3 linked regions of the Homo sapiens genome follow. The protein of the gene in region 2 purifies or fractionates together with the protein of the main gene of each other region. This does not show direct contact. Each region holds a gene or a part of one and is shown on either strand. Other genes may lie near its edges. The genes, in order: CRTAP, MIA3 and SIGLEC12.

Region 1 (3,752 bases), on a different chromosome or scaffold from region 2:
AAAGAGAGAAACAGCGGAGAGGGCCAATCCTGATGACTCACGGTGCACGAGTTCCCCTTTAAGCAGGGATGTGTCCTTGCAAGGAGTCCCTGCCCTTCCCTGGCCTCAATTTCATCCTCTTTAAAAGGAACTAGTCAGCTGGGTGCAATGGCTCACGACTGTAATCCCAGAACTCTGGGAGGCGAGGTGGGAGGATCACTTGAGTCCGGGAGTTCGAGATCAGCCTGGGCAACGTGGCGAAACTCTGTCTCTACAGAAAATACCAAAAAATTAGCTAGGTGTGGTGGCGCGCGCCTATAATCCCAGCTACTCAGGAGGCTGAGGTGGAGGATCACCTGAGCCTGAGGAGGTCAAGGCTGCAGTGAGCCATGATAGCGCCTCTGCACTCCAGCCTGGGCGACTGTGAGACCCTGTCTCAACAAAAAATAAAAATAAAAGGTACTTGTCGGCTCCTCAGGTCTTCTGCTTTATTATCGCAAGTCACCGCTCACTTGAGAAAAAAGGCGACTTTAATGGTATATACAGAAAAGAGGCGTCTGCCCTCAAATAACAGAGAACATTTATCAGGCACTTTGTTGGGTGCCTGGCGCTGTACTGCGTTCTGTGTACGTATTCTCTACCTTAGAGTTACCCTTCAAGAAAGGCATTTTCATCTCTAGTTGAGATGAAGAAGGAGACAGGACTTGGAGGAGACCTTTGGCAGGGCTGGATGGGAGGGAGCCAGGTCTAGAACTGGAGGGGCAACGCGGCCCCGGGCGCAGGGGCGGGGCTAGGGCCTGGAGGCTGGGTCAGGGGCGGGGCCGGGGCCTGGGACGGGGCGAGGCGGACTTGCCTTGAAGTAAGCGAACTGCAGGAACTTGTAGGGCTCGCGGCGCTGGAAGTCCGCCAGCACCTCGCGGCTGGGCTGGGACTGGCGGAAGGCTGGCAGGCCCTGCTTGCAGCGCTTGAGGCAGTGCGCGCGGCGCAGCAGGCCCCCGAAGAGGCGCAGCTCGGGATAGCTGGCGAGGCCGGCGGCGGGCTCGGGCTGCGGCGCGGCGCTGCAGTTGCGGTGGCAGAAGGCCTCGCTGTCGCGCAGCAAGCGGTGCAGCCGCAGGCTGATCTCCAGGTAGCCCACGCTCTCGGCCCAGTGCTCGCCGCTGTACTTGTCCAGCGCGTGCCGGTAGGCCGACTCGAGCGGCATCAGCTCGTCCCGTGGGAAGCTGCGGAAGCTGTAGCGTTCGTATTGGGCGCGCCCGGCGCGCAGCGCGCAGGCCACGCACAGCAGCGCTAGCAGCGCCGCGGCCCCCCGGCGCCCCGGCTCCATCGCGCCCGGCGAAAGGAAGGAAGGAAGGGACGAAGGAAGGGAAAAGGGGAGGGAGAAGGAAAGGAAAGAGGACGGTGCGACGCGGCGGGCCCAGTGCTTTCGGGGCGGGGACGCCAGCCTCCGGCCCGCCCCGTCCGGCCGCCCCTCCCCACCCAGCCGGGGGATCTGGGCGCCAGCTGCCAGCACCTAGAGGGTGCCCGGGAAAGGCGCGCTGCGCACTGGTTCACGCAGGCTGATGCGCATGATGGGACTCTGCCGCTCATTCACTTGGAGACCCGCCTGCAAGGCCGACGCGGCCCTAATAGATTATATACATCGGCCCTACGGTCTATATAATCTACGATCTTTATATTCGTTTGGAGGTTTGTGAAAACGAAGATTCCTGGGCTGTGCCCCCAGAGTTTCTGATTCAGAAAGTCTGGGGTGGAGGTCTGACGATTTGTGTGTTTAACCAGCACCCTGATGAGGCTAATGCTGCGGGCCCAAGGGCCGCACTTTTAATAGCACTGCCCAACCTTAAATTTTAGTGAGAGAAAAAGACAGTGCAAAAATAAAATTAATAAGGATGTCAGCACTTTGTAAACTGTATAGCTAGTCAGGTTGAAGATGTGCACACCTTATGAATCTGCAACACCATTCGGTGGAATATGCTGGAGAAGCTTGCGCGTGTGCATCAAAAAATATGGATGGAATGTTAATGGCAGCACTTTTAAAAAATCTTTAAACTTTTAAATCTTGAAATAATTTACAAGAAAGCTGCAAAAACAGTACAAAAAGTTCCTATATACCCTTCATCAAGATTCACAAGTTGCTAACGTTATACCACATTTCTATCTTTACATTTTTTTCTGACTCATTTGAGATAGGTTGCATGTATCAGGCCCACTGTCCGTTAGTCTTTTTTTTTTCTTTTTTTTTTTCCTTTTTTTTTTTTTGAGACGGAGTCTCGCCCTGTCACCCAGGCTGGAGTGCAGTGGCGCGATCTCGGCTCACTGCAACCTCCGCCTCCCGGGTTCAAGCAATTCTCCCTGCCTTAGCCTCCCGAGTAGCTGGGATCATAGGCACACACCACCATACCTGGCTAATTTTTCTATTTTTTACTAGAGATGAGGTTTTGCCATGTTGGCCAGGCTGTTCTTGAACTCCTGACCTTAGGTGATCTACCTGCCTCTGCCTCCCAAAGTGCTGGGATTACAGGCGTGAGCCACCGTGCCCAACCCCTTAGTCTTTCAGTATGTATGTCCTAAGAATGAAACTACCAGACAATCAAATTTAGGAAATTTAATACTGATAGAAGACTTTAATCATGTTCCATTTCCGGTTATGTCAGCTGTTCCAATTATGTCTTTCATGGCACTTTTTTCTCTTAGGATGCAGTCCATCCGTGATCACTGTTACATCTAGTCTATTTCATATCCTTTAAACTGGTTCCTCGGCTTTTCTTGTCATGCCGTTGTCATTTTTGAAAAATATAGGCCAAAACAGCAATGAGATACCACTACAAAATCCAAAACACTGACAACGTCACATGCTGACAAGGATGTGGAGCAACAGGAACTCTCATTCATTGATAGTGGCAATGCAAAATGGTACATACAGTTTAGAAGACAGTTGGGCCGTTTCTTACAAAACTAGGCATACTCTACTCATACAATCCAGAAATTGCACTTCTTGGTATTTACCCAAATGGGTTAAAACTTATGCACACACCTGCGAATGGATGTTTGTAGCAACTTTATTCACAATTACCATAACTTGGAATCAACCAAGATGTCCTTCAGTGGGTAAGTGGATACATAAACTGTGGTATATACACACAATGGAATTTTATTCCAAGCCAAAAAGAAATGAGCTATCAAGCCATGAAAAGACATGGAGAAGTCTTAAATGCATATTACTGGTTGAAAGAAGCCAAACTGAAAAGGCTACATACTGTGTGATTCCAGCCAAATGACATTCTGGAAAAGGCAAAACTATGGAGACAGTAAAAGGATCAGTGGTTGCTGAGAATTATGGAAAGGGAGGAATGAATGGGTAGAGGACAGGATTATTGGAGCAGTGAAACTATTCTATATGATAGTATAATGGTGGATATATGCTATACATTTGTTAAAATCCATAATATGTACAACACTAAGAGTGAGCCCTAATGTAAACCGGACTTTGGGTGATAACGATGTGTTGATGTAGGTTCATTGATTGTAACAAATGTACCATTCTAGTGCAAGACATTGACAGTGGGGGAGCTTGCGCATGTTGTAGGGTCATGGAGTATATTTGAACTCTGTAGTTTCCGCTCAGTTTCGCTATGAATCTAAAACCACTCTAAAAAATAAAGTCTTTTTTTTGTTTTTTGTTTTGTTTTGAGATGGAGTCTCGCTCTGCTGCAGAGGCTGGAGTGCAATGGCATGATCTCAGCTCACTGCAATCTCCACCTCCAGGGTTCAAG
Region 2 (3,752 bases):
GATAAGACTTTAAGTATGGTGCAATTCCAGATGGTTAGTTACTGATTTTTAAATAAAAACACCAACGTTTAAATATTAATTAATATTAATTTTGGAATAATATCTGTCGCCCCCATTTCCCCCTAAAACAGAACTGATTTCAACCCTTGGTTGCTGACCTAGGGCATGTTATAACCCTCACAGTCCTAAATCATTCTTTCTCATGGCATTATACTCTTCCAATCTTTTTATTATATTCCTCAAAAATCAGTGGCAAGGAATGGGAAAGATAGATAAGGGACTGTACATTTTAAAATTTTTAAAGATTTCTATACTTTTATGGCCATGACACATCATTTTCATTTTTCTGTTGTGCACCCTTTTTCTACAGGAATGGTAAAAACAATGGAACATCAGGTCAAACAACTCTTGCTACTAATGTAAACTCACTCTCAGAAAACCATTCTCAAATAGACAATGAGGATCGTAAAGAAAGCATGTGAATGCTATACAAGTGGGAAATAAACTTCTTTGAAATAAAAAGACGTCACTTGTAGAGTTCACAGGTGACGGAGGAGCAGCCGGAAGTGTGCCACCAGCCACCATCTTCAGTTCTGGGAGCCTGAGTTTACATGTTCCCCAAATGGCACAAGCCTCATAACAGTCCAATGAGTCAACAGACACTTGGGAAATATTAATAAACAAATTTTTATGAGCTATTACTACAAAGAACTTCAGCAAGAGGGGAGATAGTTTAGTGATCTTTTAGTAAACATTTTTAGCGTAACAGTCTTTGTGACCAGATAGTTTAAAAAAACGCTTATAAACACCATTGCTCCGTATTCAGCTGGTGTACACTAAAAATAGGATAATGGAAATACATGTTCTTAAAGCATTTCCACAGGAAATGTTCATATTTTTCATGACATTCTAAATCATTTTGCAATTACATATGCTACATTAGCTAAAACACAGGTATTCTTTATTGCACATTTCAAAGTTGTAAGGACGCTCTAGCTTAAAAGGTGATTTTTATTTAGGGAAGAAATGACATTTTTGAATTGTTTGGCTCAAAAATGCACACTGCCAAGGCAGCTTAGTTCTAACAACAAACCTTTTAAAATAAACTTTTGGATTTTGAAGCCAATGAAATCCTTTACTGTAATGGATAATGCACAGTACACTTTCTTTCCAATGAAACCTCAGAGGTCATAGTTTTATGGGCTCTGTTTTAAAGCCTGTGAACAGTCCTGGCTAGTGCTCTGAGAGGCAGGTGGAGGCTCATCTCTAGAGCCTGACGGCAGTAAGTCTCTTACAGCAGGTGGTGGTGGGTATTCCTGGGGACCATGGGTTGGGGGTGGTAATCGGGTACCAGGAATAAAGTACTCTCTTGGGCCAAGTGAACCTAAAGGTCTAAATGGTGCGTGTCCAGGTAAAAATCCCCGAGGGTGGAGAGGCAGGTCCCGTCTTCCTGGTGGAACGCCTGGTGCAAATTCTCTTAAGCCTAGTGGTGGACGCATACCAGGGCCTGGAAAACAAAAATTATTTCCAGTAAATTCCTAGGAACGTATTTAAATTAAGATAATGCCAGGTATGTTAATATAGTCTGTCATCCTTTTTTTTTTTTTTTTTTTTTTTTGGCGGCAGGGTCTTGCCTGTCACATGGGCTGGAGTGTAATGAGTGATCATGGCTCACTGCAGCCTCAATCTCCCGGACTCAATCAATCCTCCCACCTCAGACTCCCCAGTAGCTGGGACTACAGGTGCACGCCACCACTCCCAGCTAATTTTTGGATTTTTTGTAGAGATGGGGGTTTCACCATGTTGCCCAGGCTGGTCTCAAACTCCTAGGCTCAAGGGATCCACCTGCCTCAGCCTCGTCTAATGAATGCTGGGATTCATAAAGTGCTGGGATTACAGGCGTGAGCCACTGTGCCTGGCCTGCCATCTTTATCTGAAAAAGAGAGATAGATTTGTACTTGGAAGTACTATATACCATACCAAGAAGACAGACTAAATATGGCTTCATTGCAATAAAAATTTTGATAAATTCCATTAACTACTGTGTATCAGTTAAAAATTTATGCAGTAGCTCAAGATGTACCTAATAAATGCCATAAAAATTAAGGTGCTTGCCCTGCTGGAAAAGGCTTTCCAGCTCCATCTAATTAAATTCAGCAGCATTCATTAGATAGCTGTTAAATTCTACCTTCTCTTTCATATCTCCCTTCTTTGTATTCCCAAGGTGAGGGTTGAGGGTTTTGTCTTTCCTTAATATTCTGTGACCTACTGCTTATGCTTCCATTATGGGTGATTAGAAGCTTTATGTTGTAGAATGTGTATATTTGTGACCTACAGGACATCTTAGTTAGGGGATGTATTTTATCTACCTTGCTATCCATTGCAGAGCCTAGTACACAGCCACAGATGTTCAATGTGATGAATATTTCTGGCTTTTTATAAATAGCCCCTTTCCTTGTTCTATTAGAGACAACTATTGCCCATCTAATCACAGGAGATTATGTAGCACCCTTTGTGTCTGAAGAAACTTGGGGAAAAGTTACGGTGTACTCAATCAGCTTCACTGCTGCATTGCAAAGCCCCGCAATTGCAGTTGTTTTAGCAAGGGATAGATGGAGAAGATGAATGTGCTTTACAAGTCAATTACTACTGTTCAGATCATCTTACCAAAGGGTGGAGGAAGTGGCCGAGGCCCAAAAGGTCCGCAGAGCTGAGGTGGTGGTCCATATCGAATGGGTGGTGGTACAGGGCCTCCCATGGGGGTGCTCATGAGAGGGACTCCTGGGAAAGGAGGGGGCCCTTTTGGAGCCATATTAACCTGCAGAGTAGAAACAATTGAAGTTTTGAAATACTATGGTATGACAGACAAAAGCACCAACACCAGTAAAAACTAAAACCCAATGAAGCAGATGTCAGGCACTTGTCCAAAGAGCAGAATTAGTGCAAAAAACTCTACCCCTCTCATTTGTTCCCACTGACAAGCTTAGAAAGGTTAAAAGTATGCCACAGGAGTGAACACTTGCTGTATCATATTATTGCTTACATCTGCAAATGGAAGGGAACGCACAGGTTATAAATGGAGGTCATTCCTGACTAATGATAGAAGTTACGCCATTCATACATCTATTTCTAAGGCAGTCACTCCCTCTGCACATCCCTCCTATCAGAGTAATTTCCATATTAAGAATGCAGAGAATGAAAGGGAATGAAAAATCCATTCTCTACCATGTAACAGCGATTATTCAGAGTACCTTCTGTAGGCCCTACATATATTAACACAAATTCTGACATCTCTAAATCTGTAATAGGACCATCTTGTTCTAAATATGCAGGAACACAGGCGCAGAGAGTATTAGATTTGCTGATGGTCACACAGCATGTAAGAGGCTGGCTGGAATTCCATGCCAGGTTTGACTCCAAGGCCACGTTCTTTCCACCTCTGCTTCTCCTTTCTAACAAAGTAGTCTCTACACTCTTCGAAGTCTCCTACTTCAAAGGGGTCTCGGGTCTTATCCAAGCTGCTCTTGGATAAAAACATTTCTCAAGAAATGTGTATTCCTGGAGTCCTGTGCTGGAACTTGGAAGTATTTTCCAAGAGAAACAATGTTATGTACACAAATTATACAGGCACAGCTCTATTCATCTTCATTCACTAGTAATACTGTCTACTATGAGATACTGATTAATCACTTCCTATGGGAAAGTGGGTTGGAAACTCTCAATCATTAAAATTATTTTAATTTCAATGTCGA
Region 3 (3,752 bases), on a different chromosome or scaffold from region 2:
AGCAGAGTCTGTCCCCAGAATCGACCAGGGTCTGTCCAGGCTGTCCTGAGCCTTGGTTTGTGCACCTGGAAGATCTCAGAGGTGGTTTGATGTCAGTAGTGAGACTGTTTGCACCCTCCTCTAGGGCTGTGTGTCATTCCACTGTCTGAATAGTCTCTGATTTTGTGGCATCTTCTAATGGAAGATCATGGCACTAATTTTATCCTACAGCACAAACACTGCAATGAATATTGTTGTATCTACTCCCACAAGGAATATCTAAGTGTATGGAATAAAGTCCTAAAAGCAAAATATAGCAGTGTCATATGTCTTTCTGATTTTGAAAGATAGAGTGAAATTGTTCTAATTAAAGATGGACAAGTTTACATCCCCAACAGTGAGCAGTGAACGTGCATATGTCCCTACAATTCAGCATGTATCAGTGTCTGTTCCATTCACCACTCTCTTTCTGTATCCTTCCTCCCTGCCTCGATCACTTTGTCTCTCTCTGCCCTTCTGTCTCTTTCTCTACAGCATCCACAACCTTGAGGAATGGCTCGGCCCTTTCAGTCCTGGAGGGCCAGTCCCTGCACCTTGTCTGTGCTGTCGACAGCAATCCCCCTGCCAGGCTGAGCTGGACCTGGGGGAGCCTGACCCTGAGCCCCTCACAGTCCTCGAACCTTGGGGTGCTGGAGCTGCCTCGAGTGCATGTGAAGGATGAAGGGGAATTCACCTGCCGAGCTCAGAACCCTCTAGGCTCCCAGCACATTTCCCTGAGCCTCTCCCTGCAAAACGAGTACACAGGTGGGTAGGGGAGGGTCTGGAGGAGGAGAACACACATGTCCCACCCTCAGGGTCCAGCTGGGAGACCTGGAATTTCCCTGCAACCCACAGCATCACAGTCCTCTTGCTGCCAAGCAGTGAGTGCGGGGTGGGGAGAGGGGAGGAGTTAATCTTGGAGGGGAGGAGCTGGGGCCTGGACAAGTGTGTTTGGGGATACAAGGGCCTTGCTTTCCAGTGCCTGGACTAGTGTGAGGCAAGTGAGGCACTCACTTTGGGCACACAATTTAAGAACCAAAAATAAAACAACTCAGCAAGCAAGAGAAATAATCTTGCCATGTGATTATCTTTTCGAAAATTAAAAATTATTGTAAAATAATTCCATGGTGAAAACTAATCAAAATTTTAAATAAAGGCAGACTGCACCCAGCACTCTCATGCCTCAGTGACCTCAGGAGAAGTTCCCTTCCGTCCTTGTTCTTTCTGTCCGGGAAGCGGGACTGGGGTACCCAAGTCTGGGGCCCTACAGGCAGTGGGAGGAGAAGAGGCCCAGTTCTTGGAGGGTAAACCCCAAAACAACTCCAATCCATCCTCAGGCAAAATGAGGCCTATATCAGGAGTGACGCTAGGGGCATTCGGGGGAGCTGGAGCCACAGCCCTGGTCTTCCTGTACTTCTGCATCATCTTCGTTGTGTGAGCATTGACCCTGGGGAGGAAGAGCCTTGGGGGAGGGCAGGCTGGGAACAAAATCCCTGAAGCCAGACCTGGAAGGACCTGGATGGGTCAAGAGCTTGAAGCAAGGGCCAGAATGAGGTCATGGGTGCATGGTAAGAATTTCATGAGCGCCCCTGTTTGTGGAGCTCCATGTCTGTGGCAAACCTCAGACCCTACTGCCCAGGAAAAAAGAGCCTCTGTTTTCGACATTGGGGTCTCTGGAATGGGACCACTCCCCTCCCGCCTCAGTTACCCCTCCAGCTCCCCAATAGGAAATACAGGGCAGGGGTTGGTCTGCCCACTGCACCCCGATCTGACCACACTGAAAGGCTCTCTGGTCTCTTCACTCAGAGTGAGGTCCTGCAGGAAGAAATCGGCAAGGCCAGCAGTGGGCGTGGGGGATACAGGCATGGAGGACGCAAACGCTGTCAGGGGCTCAGCCTCTCAGGTGAGTGAGCATTGAATCACAGCCCTTCTCCCCTGCTTTCTCCCAGGCCAGGCATGGAAGGGGATTACTTCCTCACTGTCCTTCCTTTCTTCCCCTACAGCCGAAAAATCACGTCCTGTCCACTTTTTCCTCCTAAGAACAGCTTTCATTGCCCTCCCCATCCCATCCTGACCCCTCTCACTGCTGAAGCCTCTGGATCTCTGTCTGGGACCTCCTCACCTCCCTGCCTCTTGCCTCCCCTTCCCGGCCTGGAGGGACGTTCCACAGCCATCACTGTCTGCTTCCTCTGCACGTTGAATAGCTTTTGCTTCAAGTTCCATTTGGCTCAGCAGAGCACTGTCACTAATCTGGGTTTATTTAAATCTTTGTTCTCCAGGAATTTTTTGTTTTTATTTTTATTTATTTATTTATTTTGAGACAGAGTTTTGATCTTGTTGCCCAGGCTGAAGTGCGATGGTGCGATCTCAGCTCACCACAACCTCCACCTCCCGGGTTCAAGTAATTCTGCCTCAGTCTCTCGAGTAGCTGGGATTACATACACGAGCCACCATGCCCGGCTAATTTTGTATTTTTAGTAGAGACGGAGTTTCTCCATGTTGGTCAGGCTGGTCTCAAACTCCCAACCTCAGGTGATCGCCTGCCTCAGCTTCCCAAAGTGCTGGGATTATAGGCGTGAGCCACCGCGCCCAGGCTTTCCATGGACTTTTTATATTAATTTTGATTTTTTAAATATTGTGTTAAAATTGTATTCATCTTCATTGCTGAGATTTGGGGCACCCTTTTAATTTTGTGCTCTGGGTAAGGGCTTCCCTGGCTTTGCTCCAATCCCAGCCCCGCCTCCAGCCACTCCTGCCTCTGCTCCATGCTCCATCAACGCTGGACTCCAGTGTCATCACCAACAAGGTTATTTGTGTCTCTACGTCTTCACATTGGCTGTTCCTCCTCCTCAGATGCTTTTTTCTCCCCACTCCCTGATTCCTATTCATCCTTCATGCCCTGATATAAATATTACACTCATCATTTATTGATTGTATTGAATGTGACTGGAAGCCTGTGGAAGGTTTCGAGTAGCAGAGTAACATCCATCCCTTCATTCATTAATTCATTCAGGAAAAGTTATAGAGCATCTCCTAAGAGAAGATGCCAGCGACCCATCTGTGGAAAACATTTAAAAGTCTTGGGCTCATCGAAGTTTAATTCTATACAGAGGGATATGGCCAAACCAATCAACTAATCAAAACTAATAAAACAACAAATGAATAAAATATAAAGATAGATATATGCTTTAGGGAAAATGCAATGTAGAAGAAATAGGAAGTTCCAAGGAGAAGGCTTGTGGGTTTATTTTTGTTTATTCATCCAACCATTCATCCATCCATCCATCTGTCCGTCTGTCCGTCCGTCCATCCATCCAACCACCCACCCACCCGTCAGTCCATCCATCCATCCATCCATCCATCCATCCACCCACCCACCCACCCATCCATCCATCCATCCATCCATCCATCCATCCACCCACCCGTCTGTCCATCCATCCATCCATCCATCCATCCATCCATCCATCCACCCACCCGTCCGTCCGTCCATCCATCCATCCATCCATCCATCCATCCATCCACCCACCCACCCGTCCATCCATCCATCCATCCATCCATCCATCCACCCACCCACCCGTCCGTCCATCCATCCATCCATCCATCCATCCATCCACCCACCCACCCGTCCATCCATCCATCCACCCATCCATCCATCCAGCCATCTACGGTGGAAAATAACACATAACATAAAATTTACCACCTCAACTTTATTAAGTTTATGGTTGTGCTAGATC

What was found.
Region 1: the proteins of MIA3 (region 2) and CRTAP purify together in Homo sapiens (affinity purification with mass spectrometry; 3 studies listed by BioGRID and IntAct, with this or other methods). This does not show direct contact.
Region 3: the proteins of MIA3 (region 2) and SIGLEC12 purify together in Homo sapiens (affinity purification with mass spectrometry; 3 studies listed by BioGRID and IntAct, with this or other methods). This does not show direct contact.

What each region holds. Positions count from the first base shown.
Region 1 is NC_000003.12:33,111,629-33,115,380, reverse strand, and holds the start of CRTAP (cartilage-associated protein isoform 1 precursor), read right to left. Parts: upstream 1,368-3,752; 5' UTR 1,304-1,367; coding exon 833-1,303; intron 1-832. UniProt on the Homo sapiens protein: Necessary for efficient 3-hydroxylation of fibrillar collagen prolyl residues.
Region 2 is NC_000001.11:222,663,064-222,666,815, reverse strand, and holds part of MIA3 (transport and Golgi organization protein 1 homolog isoform 1 precursor), read right to left. Parts: intron 2,819-3,752; coding exon 2,668-2,818; intron 1,508-2,667; coding exon 1,197-1,507; 3' UTR 1-1,196.
Region 3 is NC_000019.10:51,495,049-51,498,800, reverse strand, and holds part of SIGLEC12 (sialic acid-binding Ig-like lectin 12 isoform a precursor), read left to right. Parts: intron 1-513; coding exon 514-783; intron 784-1,355; coding exon 1,356-1,452; intron 1,453-1,824; coding exon 1,825-1,921; intron 1,922-3,752. UniProt on the Homo sapiens protein: Putative adhesion molecule that mediates sialic-acid dependent binding to cells. The sialic acid recognition site may be masked by cis interactions with sialic acids on the same cell surface.